Regions from separate parts of the Homo sapiens genome. Here region 1 is linked to region 2. Evidence: fine-mapped expression QTL. Tissue or cell type: whole blood. Region 2 holds a variant in brackets; the other region holds the start of a gene. Each region is shown on its reference strand, or each on the opposite one.

The links.
Region 1: SPARC starts here. The variant in region 2 is fine-mapped to the expression of SPARC in whole blood (TOPMed, PIP 0.95).

The regions. Positions count from the first base shown.
Region 1 is chr5:151,683,757-151,689,130 of GRCh38, reverse strand. SPARC (secreted protein acidic and cysteine rich) reads left to right here and starts at 2,216. Exons shown (of 10, transcript NM_003118.4): 1 at 2,216-2,266. It overlaps CLMAT3 (colorectal liver metastasis associated transcript 3), which reads right to left. Exons shown (of 5, transcript NR_109873.1): 4 at 3,180-3,302; 5 at 1,221-2,749. RefSeq lists enhancers at 1,448-2,275, 2,276-3,105, 3,934-4,763.
Region 2 is chr17:35,554,910-35,560,283 of GRCh38, reverse strand. SLFN14 (schlafen family member 14) reads left to right here. Exons shown (of 6, transcript NM_001129820.2): 2 at 479-557; 3 at 2,178-3,281. The coding sequence starts at 2,222. LOC107985033 (a long non-coding RNA gene) reads right to left here. Exons shown (of 2, transcript NR_138032.1): 2 at 4,735-5,374. Among named protein-coding and RNA genes, the nearest start is that of SLFN14, 3.2 kb to the left of the region's middle. The variant A/G (reference allele first, on the strand shown) is at 2,499.

The DNA of each region.
Region 1 (5,374 bases), not on the chromosome of region 2:
ATAAAACAGTGTAAGGCGATGAACTGTGCCTGTGAGAGAGGCAAGTAGATTGAGTGGCCCTAAGGAGGTGACATTAGAATAGGCACAGGAAAATCAGGTGGAAGAGTGTCTCTGGCAGAGGTAAGAGCAAATGCAAAGATACTGGGCATGGTGGCTCAGACTTGTAATCCCAACACTTAGAGAGGCCAAGGCGGGCGGATCACTTGTGGTCAGGAGTTCGAGACCAGTCTGGCCAACATGGTGAAACCCTGTCTCTACTAAAAATACAAAAATTAGCCTGGTGTGGTGGTGCATGCCTGTAATCCCAGCTTCTTGAGAGGCTGAGGCAGCAGAATCACTTGAACCCAGGAGGTGGAGGTTGCAGTGAGTTGAGATTGCGCCACAGCCCTCCAGCCTGGGCAACAAAGTGAGAGTCTGTCTCAAAAAAAAAAAAAAAATCCTGGGGTGGGAGAAGCTTTGGGGTAGTTGAAGGACTGGAAGGAAGTTGGCATGGCTGGAGCAGCGTGGGCACAGAGGACAGTGGTAGGAGGAGAGAATGGCAAGAGAGACAGGGGCCACAGCGGATGGAAGTGTATCATGAGGGTGTTCTCTGCCTTCTTCCTTTCCATGGTATTCAAACCCAACCCATGCTTCCAGGTCCACCTCTTTCAGGAATCCACCAATCTGAAGCCCTGGGATAAGCCTTAGAGTCTGTACCACTCATGTAAGTGGGTGTATGTGTAAGGCACAACCTTTCAGCAAGATCCAAAGCTCCTTGAATAGTGAGTTATCTCGATTGATTGTTCACAGTCACAGATTGAATTCCTTGTACTTTTTTTCCCTTCTCAGTTCTGCACTTAACTCGTCTAAAAAAATTAAAAAAGAATTTAAGAAACCACAAAGCTAAGCTGGGTGCGGTGGCTCACGCCTGTAATCCTAGCACTTTGGGAAGCCAAGGCATTCGGATTGCCCAAGCTCAGGAGTTCGAGACCAGCCTGGGCAACATGTTGAAACCCCATTTCTACTAAAAATACAATAAATTAGCTGGGTGTTGTGGCATGTGCGCCTGTAATCCCAGCTACTCTGGAGGCTGAGGCGCGATAATTGCTTGAACCCGGGAGGCAGAGGTTGCAGTGAGCCGAAATCATACCACTGCACTCCAGCCTGGGCGACAGAGTGAGTGAGACTCTGTCTCAAAACAAAACAAAACAAACAAACAAAAAAACCGGAAACCACAAAACTTTTTGAGGACAAGGACCAGGTATTTATTAATTCTCATACCTCCCAGAGTGTTAGGCACAAAATAAACATTCAACCAAGACCTGTTGCACTGAGCAGTTCATATATAACAGGAGTGACCCAAGTTGAAACGTAGAATCAGCCCTCTCATACCACTTTTTGCCAGGTGATCATAGGCAAGTTACTTAGCATCTATGTTTCCTTATTATTAAAATGGTCATAATTACAATGCCTAAGATAAGGGGTTGCTGTGAAGATTATTAAATCCTCAGTAAACTTTGGCTATTGTTACTCCTATGATTATCATCAATATCATCAATTACCTTATCTGTTCAATACTGGTGGCACAGGTCCACCAGCTAGATGTCTAATCCCTTATGTGTCTATTAGTGGTACAAGTGGAGTTTGAGTGGGATTTTTTTTTTTAAGACCAGTTCCAAATCATCAAGGATGATACCACTAGTAGCAGCTTGTCTTGTCTGTACAGTGGTAAGTCCTGGCCTTGCCTTTGTGGCAAATACAACCCCCTTGAATTGCTTGGCCCTTCTCAGCATTGCCTAATATTAGGGAGGACTCCTGTAAAGCTCACTGGTTAGAAGATCAAGACACTTGGGCCTGGTTCTGCCCCTGGGGGCCATTGGGTAATTCCTTGCAGTCTCCAGGCCTCACTTGCCCTCTGAACAAGAAAGAGGCTGTTCTGGGTCATCCCTCCAGGCCTGTCCAGCCCTGGCACTCTGTGAGTCGGTTTAGGCAGCAGCCCCGGAACAGATGAGGCAGGCAGGGTTGGGACGTTTGGTCAGGACAGCCCACCGCAAAAAGAGGAGGAAAGAAATGAAAGACAGAGACAGCTTTGGCTATGGGAGAAGGAGGAGGCCGGGGGAAGGAGGAGACAGGAGGAGGAGGGACCACGGGGTGGAGGGGAGATAGACCCAGCCCAGAGCTCTGAGTGGTTTCCTGTTGCCTGTCTCTAAACCCCTCCACATTCCCGCGGTCCTTCAGACTGCCCGGAGAGCGCGCTCTGCCTGCCGCCTGCCTGCCTGCCACTGAGGTATGTGTGACCCCCGCCCAGCCTTTCCCTTCTATAGTTGCACCAACCCCGACACCCCCGTTCACGCCGTCAGCTCGTGTGCAAGGGAGGGAAGCTCTGCTGAGGATGCGCCTCTCCTCCCGGCTCCATCACGGCTCCCCTTAAGAGCATGGCCCTCGGTCCTGTCTGCCTGTTGCTTTTCAGAAGGTGGACTCACTGTGTAACTTTGTCTTCCCTTACAGGTTTACAGAAAATAATCTCACTATGTCTTCGGGGGAGCATTTTCTCACTCTCTGTTTTTCTCTGTGTCTGTCTCTGGTTTCAGAGGCTGCCTGCCTGTCCTCTTTGCTCCCTTTGCAAATGTGGCAGCCTCCTCCTTTCCTGGGAATCTGATCCCATCACAGCTGCCACAGGGACCTGGCCAGCAACCGGAGTCTGTCCTCCAGATCTCGGTCAGGGGTTCTGTTTTCCAAAAGGGACTTTGCACGAACAATCAGTTGATCTCTGAAAGGCAAAGGGGGAGGCTTCACCATTAATCCACACCTCTGGGAAGCCTTCTGTTTTCCTCTAATTCTCCTCACTCCCAAACACCACCTTCCGTCCCCCCAATACACAAATTTCAGCACCATTCTGCCTGAAATGGCACCATCACAACCTCAGTCTTGGGTTAGGTGTTGTTCCTGTCCTGAGTTCCTTGGGATGGTAAACACAGGCAGTAGCCCTTAGTTTATCTAGATCTGAAAACCCAGACATCAGATATCGTCAACCAAGACATGGGTGTAATGGGAGGTGGAGTGTGCTGGGGGAGATATTCTCAGAAGGGGGAAAGGGGGAAGGGAAGAGGGAGAGAATTCCAGGGTCCCCTTCCGTAATCCACCCAAGACTAGTGTCCAGCCTGTCAGGGTGTCAGTTCTTCTTCAGACAAATCCACTACCTTTCTTCGCCGCCACTGGCTCCGTGAACTGGCTGTCAAGTGGACTTCCTTAGGGAAAGGGACTCCAAGGACTCCAAGGGAAGGGGGGCACTGGGATGAGTTATGTCTTCCAGGATTCCCAGTCTGCCCAAAAGGGAACAGAGAGGCATGCATTTTCCTCAGGAAAGGACAGCATTTTTTTCATTAGAGAAAATGTTTTCTCTAGTAATGCTTTAGAGTTAAATTTCTATACGCCCCAAGTGCTGGTGGTTTAGTGAGAAGCAAAGCAGAAGTAGGACACAGGCTTCGGGCATGCATTTTATGTGTGATCTTAGGTAAGTGTCTCCCCTGGATTTAGTGCCCCATCTGTAATGAAAGAAGGCTGAAACTGAAGGCTCTTTGGGGTGCTTTGTGTCCTCTAAAATATTCAAAGGAAGATTTCTTAACCAGGGTCTATGGAGTGGTCTTTGAATGGGCCTCAAGCCATCTCTAAGCCCCTAAAAATTGTATGCACTGTGTGTGTGTGTGTGTGTGTGTGTGTGTGTGTGTGAGAGAGAGAGGGAGAGAGAGAGAGAGAGAGGATGAATATGGGTGGTCACAGCTTTCAGCTTTAAGATATTCTCAAATGGATTAGAGGGCATGACGTGGGGATGGAGTGAGGACTGGTAACAAATGTGTGTATTTGCTGGAGGATGAAGCCTTCTGAAAAGGGAGTGGTTGAGGAAAGAGAGAGTTAACTCTCAGCTATCAGCTGCCACATCGACATAGCCTAGAGCAAAGAGGGGGAGGGAGGAGAAGAAGGGGGTTGCCTGGAGAAGGAATCAACTTTTGAAACTTTCTCCAAGTCCCACCCACCAGAAGGCTCTTCTCTGCCTGACTCACTCTCCGAGGAATGCGAGTTGCCACGGTAACCTTTTTTTCAGGGTCTCTGCCTGCTGGCTGGAGGGGACCCTTGAAACCCTCTAAGAACATCAGTCTGAACGTACCCCACCCCCAAATTCAAGGCCTGCAGCAAATTCTAGGCCCTGCCCTTGTGATCTCTCAGGATTCCGGGGAAGCCTTGGGCCATGATAATCTCCTTGCAAGGGTGTTTGAAGACCTGGGTTTTAGCTCTGGCTGTGCCCTGAAGGTACCATTTGACCTTGAACTAATACTTCTTTCTGGGCCCCATTCCCTCTACAGTTAAAGAACAGTAACAGCAGCCACCTCTAGGGGGTAGATAGTGTGTAGAAGAAATGGGATAATGCACAGGGAAGCACTTTGCGAATTGTGGCATTCCCTCATAATGCAAAGGGTTTTAGAACTGATGGATTAAAGGCATCCAAAGACCTAGTGAAATCATTCTCAGCTTTTTTTTTTTTTTTTTTTCCTGGCAGCTCCATCATCTTGGGGTTTGTATAGAACTTTCCTTTACTAGAAGTACTGACAGGAAAAATTTTAAAATCATAATATTGTTTATCTTCATTTTGATTTGGGGAACTTCTTGTGTATTTCCCAAGACTGTTGTGCCCTCTATGTAGGAAAAGCATTGGCCAAGGGTGAAAAAAAAAAAAAAAAGTGTGTTCTAACTCCCAGTGCCTGACATTGGGAAAGACACTTCCTCTCTTGAGGCTGCAGTTTCCCAAACTGTTAAATAGAGTTTCTAAGCTAGATGATTTCCCAGGCACCCTTCTAACTCTGAAGTCCTATAAACCTAAATCCCAGATACCGCTTTTATTCAAAGGAATAGCTTGCCTGCATTTTTAACACCGCCTTACTGCACCCCCAGTTGAAAAGAAAACAAGAAAAGATGGGCTAGGGGATCTTGAGTTGCATAACCATCATGCTGTAATCCTTATCCATCTGTAGAGATTTGTCAATCAACAGTGTGGCTGGGGTTTGCTATTCATGAGAGCAGCTTTCCTTGCTGAAAACAAGCTATAAATAAGAAAGAATGGTGAAGGAAAGGAAAGAGCTGAGGATGTGAGGTAAACAGTAGAATATTTGGCTTTTGAAGTTGTTTATGTAGGTAGATAAATATGCAGAGATAAACAGGGACAGGTACAAACCCATAGGGATGAAGAGTATAAACATCGATTTCATCAACAGGCACCCACTGGCTCAGCTAAAAATAAGTGCCTCATTACAGGAGCAGACACAGAAAGTCATTCACTCACACACCTCTTCCTGGATGACAATGATTTACAGACAAGTTCCAGGAATATATCTCAATGAAT
Region 2 (5,374 bases):
AGTAAATGTTGTATTTATCATAATTGTTATCAGCATTCAAATAACATTGATGAGACTTACGAGTCACGAGACCATAGGGTTTGCTATTCAAAATCAATTAGATTTGTTTTGTGGGTCCCATCAGTGGAAGTTATGGGGAGACAAATTGCAGCTTAAAGTAAGGAGACCATTTCTAACACAGACGTCAGAAATTAGAAGGGACTAGAGGGACTATTTGATAGGTAGTGAGTTGCTCATTGCTGGAGGTTTGCAACTTGTTGGGAGTTGGCAATATTATAGAGGAGATTTTAGAATCCTATAGATTGTTGGACTGGAGGATCTTTAAAGTCCTTTCCAACACTTCTGTGATTCTATGATATAAATAGAATGTTATGGGAAATTTCCCTAAGGAGCCATAAAATACTACATTTACATGTACCTATAGAAGAGGCTCACATTCTAAAAAGAATTCCCCAGGTTGATTCTGGTTTTCCTGAAGGAAGTGAGAAGGCAACCAAGAACAAATTGATATCAGGGGAGTGCACATGTCTTGCCGGATGCCTGCTTTCTTCCTCTTGGTGAGTATATACAATGCCCACAGGGCCCCTGCTTTGCAAAGATCACACAGAAAGATGGGTTCTCTTCTCCTAGAGGAAGAATTTTGGTTGAGTTAGCAAATATTTTGTTTTGCAATTGACTAAAGGTAAGCAGATCTTTTCTGAAATATTTGTTTCAGAGCTCAAATTTCAGTTTAGGTGGCTGTTTTCTGGTCTAGGAAGCAAAAGAAGGGTGACAATGGTTTAGTTACCATGCCCCAAAAGCTCATGTTCTTTTCCAAGTCTTAGGGGTTTCCACAGCACAGGGCAGAACTATTAGAAGGGAAGGAAAATGCTGCTGTCACATCACACTGTATATGAGGCAATGTACTTTTGAGATTTAGAACATGTGAAGAGTTGAAAAGGTTTCTGCATTTGGTATCAACTGACATTCTTTCAGGAGTAAAATAAAGCTTTTCAAAGTGTATGAAATAATACATAAAAATATAGAATTTTATTTATTTACTTTTATTTTTATTTTTTTAGACAGGTTCCCACTCTGCTGCCCAGGCTGGAGTGCAGTGGTGCGATCATGGTTCACTGCAGCCTCAAACTCCTGGGCTCAAGAGATCCTCCCACCTCAGCCTCCTAGGTAGCTGGGACTGCAGGTGCGCACCACCATACCTGCCTAATGTTTAACATTTTTTTTTTTTTTATCTTTTGTCGAGATGGGGTCTTGCTATGTTGTCCACGCTGGTCTCAACTCCTGATCGAAAGCAATCCTCTCACATCCACCTCCCAAAGTGCTGAGATTACACATGTGAGCTACCACACCCAGCCTATGTTTGTGTTTATAGCAAGATCTTCTACAGTACATATACTGTAAAATTATACTTCCTTAGTTCTCTAGTGCCTTCCTTTCTTCCCCTTTTGAATTATAAATAAGAGCATCTTCTCACTTCAACTTCTATTTCTGCATATTCTCCAATACCTTCCTGGGCTCCTGTGCCAACCCATGCCCTTTATATCTGGGCTCAGTGTTGGCGTTTCCTGATTTGAAATGCAAAATGGCTGAAAATGTTAGCAATTTAATTTTTCCATTATGACAAATATTAGGCATTCACCTTTATCCATGCCTACTTATTCTGGCAAGGCTAAGGATATTTGGCAAAGTGATTAGAAAACAGCAGTATCAAAGATAATTTCCAGTTGGGTGCGGTGGCTCACATCTGTAATCCCAGCACTTTGGGAGGGAGGCCCAGGCAGGAGGATTGCAACGTAGCAAGACTCCATCTCTTAAAAAAAAAAAATAGCAAGAACAAAAAAGAAAAAAAAAATTAGCCAGGCTTGGTGGCACGTGTCTGTAGTCTCATCTACTAGGGAGACTGAAGTTGGAGAATCACTTGAACTGGGAGGTTGAGGTTGCAGAGAACTATTATTGTGCCACTGCACTCCAACCTGCATAACAGAGCAAGATTCTATCTCAAAAACAAACAAACAAAACTAAAAAACCCAAAACAAACAACAACAACAAATATACATATAGAGAGAGATGACTTCCAACATTAAAATATATCTCCAGTAATTGATAGTTTTGAAGAAAATATTGTAATCTTTGGAATTCTTATTAATATAGAAACAATATTTCTGTCCTGATTATAGGAACTCCTTTCTTTTATTGTTTGGAGCACAGAGGGGCTGCTGAAATGGAGAGTCTCAAGACTGATACTGAAATGCCGTATCCTGAGGTAATAGTAGATGTGGGCAGAGTGATTTTTGGAGAAGAAAACAGGAAGAAGATGACCAACAGCTGTTTGAAAAGATCTGAGAATTCTAGAATTATCCGGGCTATATGTGCACTGTTAAATTCTGGAGGTGGTGTGATCAAAGCAGAGATTGATGATAAAACCTATAGTTACCAATGCCATGGGCTGGGACAGGATTTGGAAACTTCTTTTCAAAAGCTCCTTCCTTCAGGTTCAC[A/G]GAAATACCTTGACTACATGCAGCAGGGGCACAATCTCCTGATTTTTGTGAAGTCATGGAGCCCAGATGTTTTCAGCCTTCCACTAAGGATTTGCAGCTTGCGCTCCAATTTGTATCGGAGAGATGTGACTTCTGCTATCAACTTGAGTGCTAGCAGTGCCCTGGAGCTTCTCAGAGAGAAGGGGTTTAGAGCCCAAAGAGGAAGACCAAGGGTGAAGAAGTTGCATCCTCAGCAGGTTCTCAATAGATGCATTCAGGAAGAGGAAGATATGAGGATATTGGCCTCAGAATTTTTTAAAAAGGACAAACTCATGTATAAGGAGAAACTCAACTTTACTGAGTCAACACATGTTGAATTTAAAAGGTTCACCACCAAAAAAGTCATACCTCGGATTAAGGAAATGCTGCCTCATTATGTTTCTGCATTTGCCAACACTCAAGGGGGATATGTCCTCATTGGGGTGGATGATAAGAGCAAAGAAGTGGTTGGATGTAAGTGGGAAAAAGTGAATCCTGACTTACTAAAAAAAGAAATCGAAAACTGCATAGAAAAATTGCCTACATTCCACTTCTGCTGTGAGAAGCCAAAGGTAAATTTCACTACAAAAATCCTGAATGTGTACCAAAAAGATGTCCTGGATGGTTATGTCTGTGTGATTCAAGTGGAGCCCTTCTGTTGCGTGGTGTTTGCAGAGGCCCCAGATTCCTGGATCATGAAAGACAATTCTGTCACACGGCTGACAGCTGAGCAGTGGGTGGTCATGATGCTGGATACTCAGTCAGGTAAAGGGAAGTGAAGTCATTGTCCCCATCAGCAGGGAGGAACCCCTTTCTCTGCCTTTTGTGGGTATTTGATCACATATGTTAGTTAAAAAATAGAAATTTATTTTTCTTATAAGTGTTCTCCCATTACAGTGTTCCTTATCTAACATTTTTAGTTCCAAAGACTCAGAATATAAACTGAGGTCAAGAAATGTTTGGATTCTATGGCCTAAACAACTTTTTTTTCTTTAGACTCTGTCACCCAGGCTGGAGTGCAGTGGTGTGACCTCGGCTCACTGCAAACTCCACCTCCCAGGTGCAAGTGATTCTCGTGCTTCAGCCTCCCAAGTAGCTGGGATTACAGGCACACACCACCATGTCGGCTAATTTTTGTATTTTTAATAGAGATGGGGTTTTGCCATGTTGCCCAGGCTGGTCTTGAACTTCTAACCTCAAGTGATCAACTCACCTCCACCTCCCAAACTGCTGGGATTACAGGTGTGAGCCACCACTCCTGGCCAGCCTAAGCAACTTTTAAAGGAAAGTTACAGTATGCCATCAGCAATGAGTTAGGAAAGGTCTCCTTTTATTGTCTATAAACCTGTTGAAAAAATTGTGCAGGCTGATCATCCCAGTCAAAATTGGAATAGCCTCATTTTAGAGATGATATTCTAGAGAAACACTGTTTAAGAATAACTCTGAGGCTGGGCGCAGTCCTAGCACTTTGGGAGGCCAAGGTGGGCAGATTGCCTAAGCCCAGGAGTTTGAGACCAGCCTGGCCAAAATAGCGAAGCCCTATCTCTCCCCCAAATATAAAAATTAGCCAGGCGTGGTGGTGTATGCCTGTAGTCCCAGCTACATGGGAGGCTGAGGTGGGAGGATTGCTTGAGCCTGGGAGGTGGAGGTTGTAGTCAGCCAAGATCACTCCACTGCACTCCAGCCTAAGCAACAGAGCGAGACCCCGTCTCAAAAAAATAAATAAATAAAAATAAAAAAATAAAAATAAATGACTCCACTACTCCACTAATTCTTTCAAGCAAAACATTGTTGACAAATTTGAATTGTTTCAGTAACATTAGGAGCTAATAACCTTAAGCCACTGGGCTTAGGGCACCACCAAGTGGGGGAAAATGATGCAAAAGGAGATGCTAGGGCAAGGGGGTGCTGGGGGGAGCAGGACCCCTGGTGTTCTCACTTACCTTTCAGTTTTGATTGGAATCAGCCTTGGTGATTCCTAATCAATCCATAAAGGACTATAGGCCGAACTACGCCTATCTGCTTGCCTTCACGGCCAGTATGTTCCAGATTTCATCAAAACTTGAGTGATTGGAGAATTTTATTGGGTCATTCTTTCTCTTAATTTGTTTGAGTTCACTTCTCTTCTCCTCTCCCCTAAAGATCCTGCCACTTTTGATTCCATCTAACCTTAGATGGGGACATAAACAACTGTAACAACATTTTTTTTTTTTTTTGAGACAGGGTCTTGCTTTGTCGCCTAGGCTGGAGTGCAGCGGCACGATCTCAGCTCACTGCAGCCTCCGCCTCCCAGGTTCAAGCAATTCTCCCACCTCAGCCTCCCGAGCAGCTGGGATTACAGGCACACCACCACGCCCAGCTAATTTTTGTATTTTTTTGTATTTTTTTTTTTTTTTGAGACGGAGTCTCGCTCTGTCACCCAGGCTGGAGTGCAGTGGCGCTATCTCGGCTCACTGCAAGCTCCGTCTCCTGGGTTCACCCCATTCTCCTGCCTCAGCCTCCCGAATAGGTGGGACTACAGGCGCCGGCCACCATGCCTGGCTAATTTTTTTTGTTTTTAGTAGAGACGGGGTTTCACCGTGTTAGCCAGGATGGTCTTGATCTCCTGACCTCGTGATCCGCCTGCCTCGGCCTCCCAAAGTGCTGGGATTACAGGTGTGAGCCATCACATCTGGCCAACACCATTTTTAAAATACTGTGCTTTAATCCTTGCTGATCCCCACTAGATGCCTTTTCTTCTTAGAGATAACCTGGAGTCAGAATATTATAATTGAAAGGAAGCTTAGGGATTATTACTTCACTCCAGCGTGAGAGAGAGGTGAAATGACTTGCTCAAGCCGAGTCACACAGTGACTTAG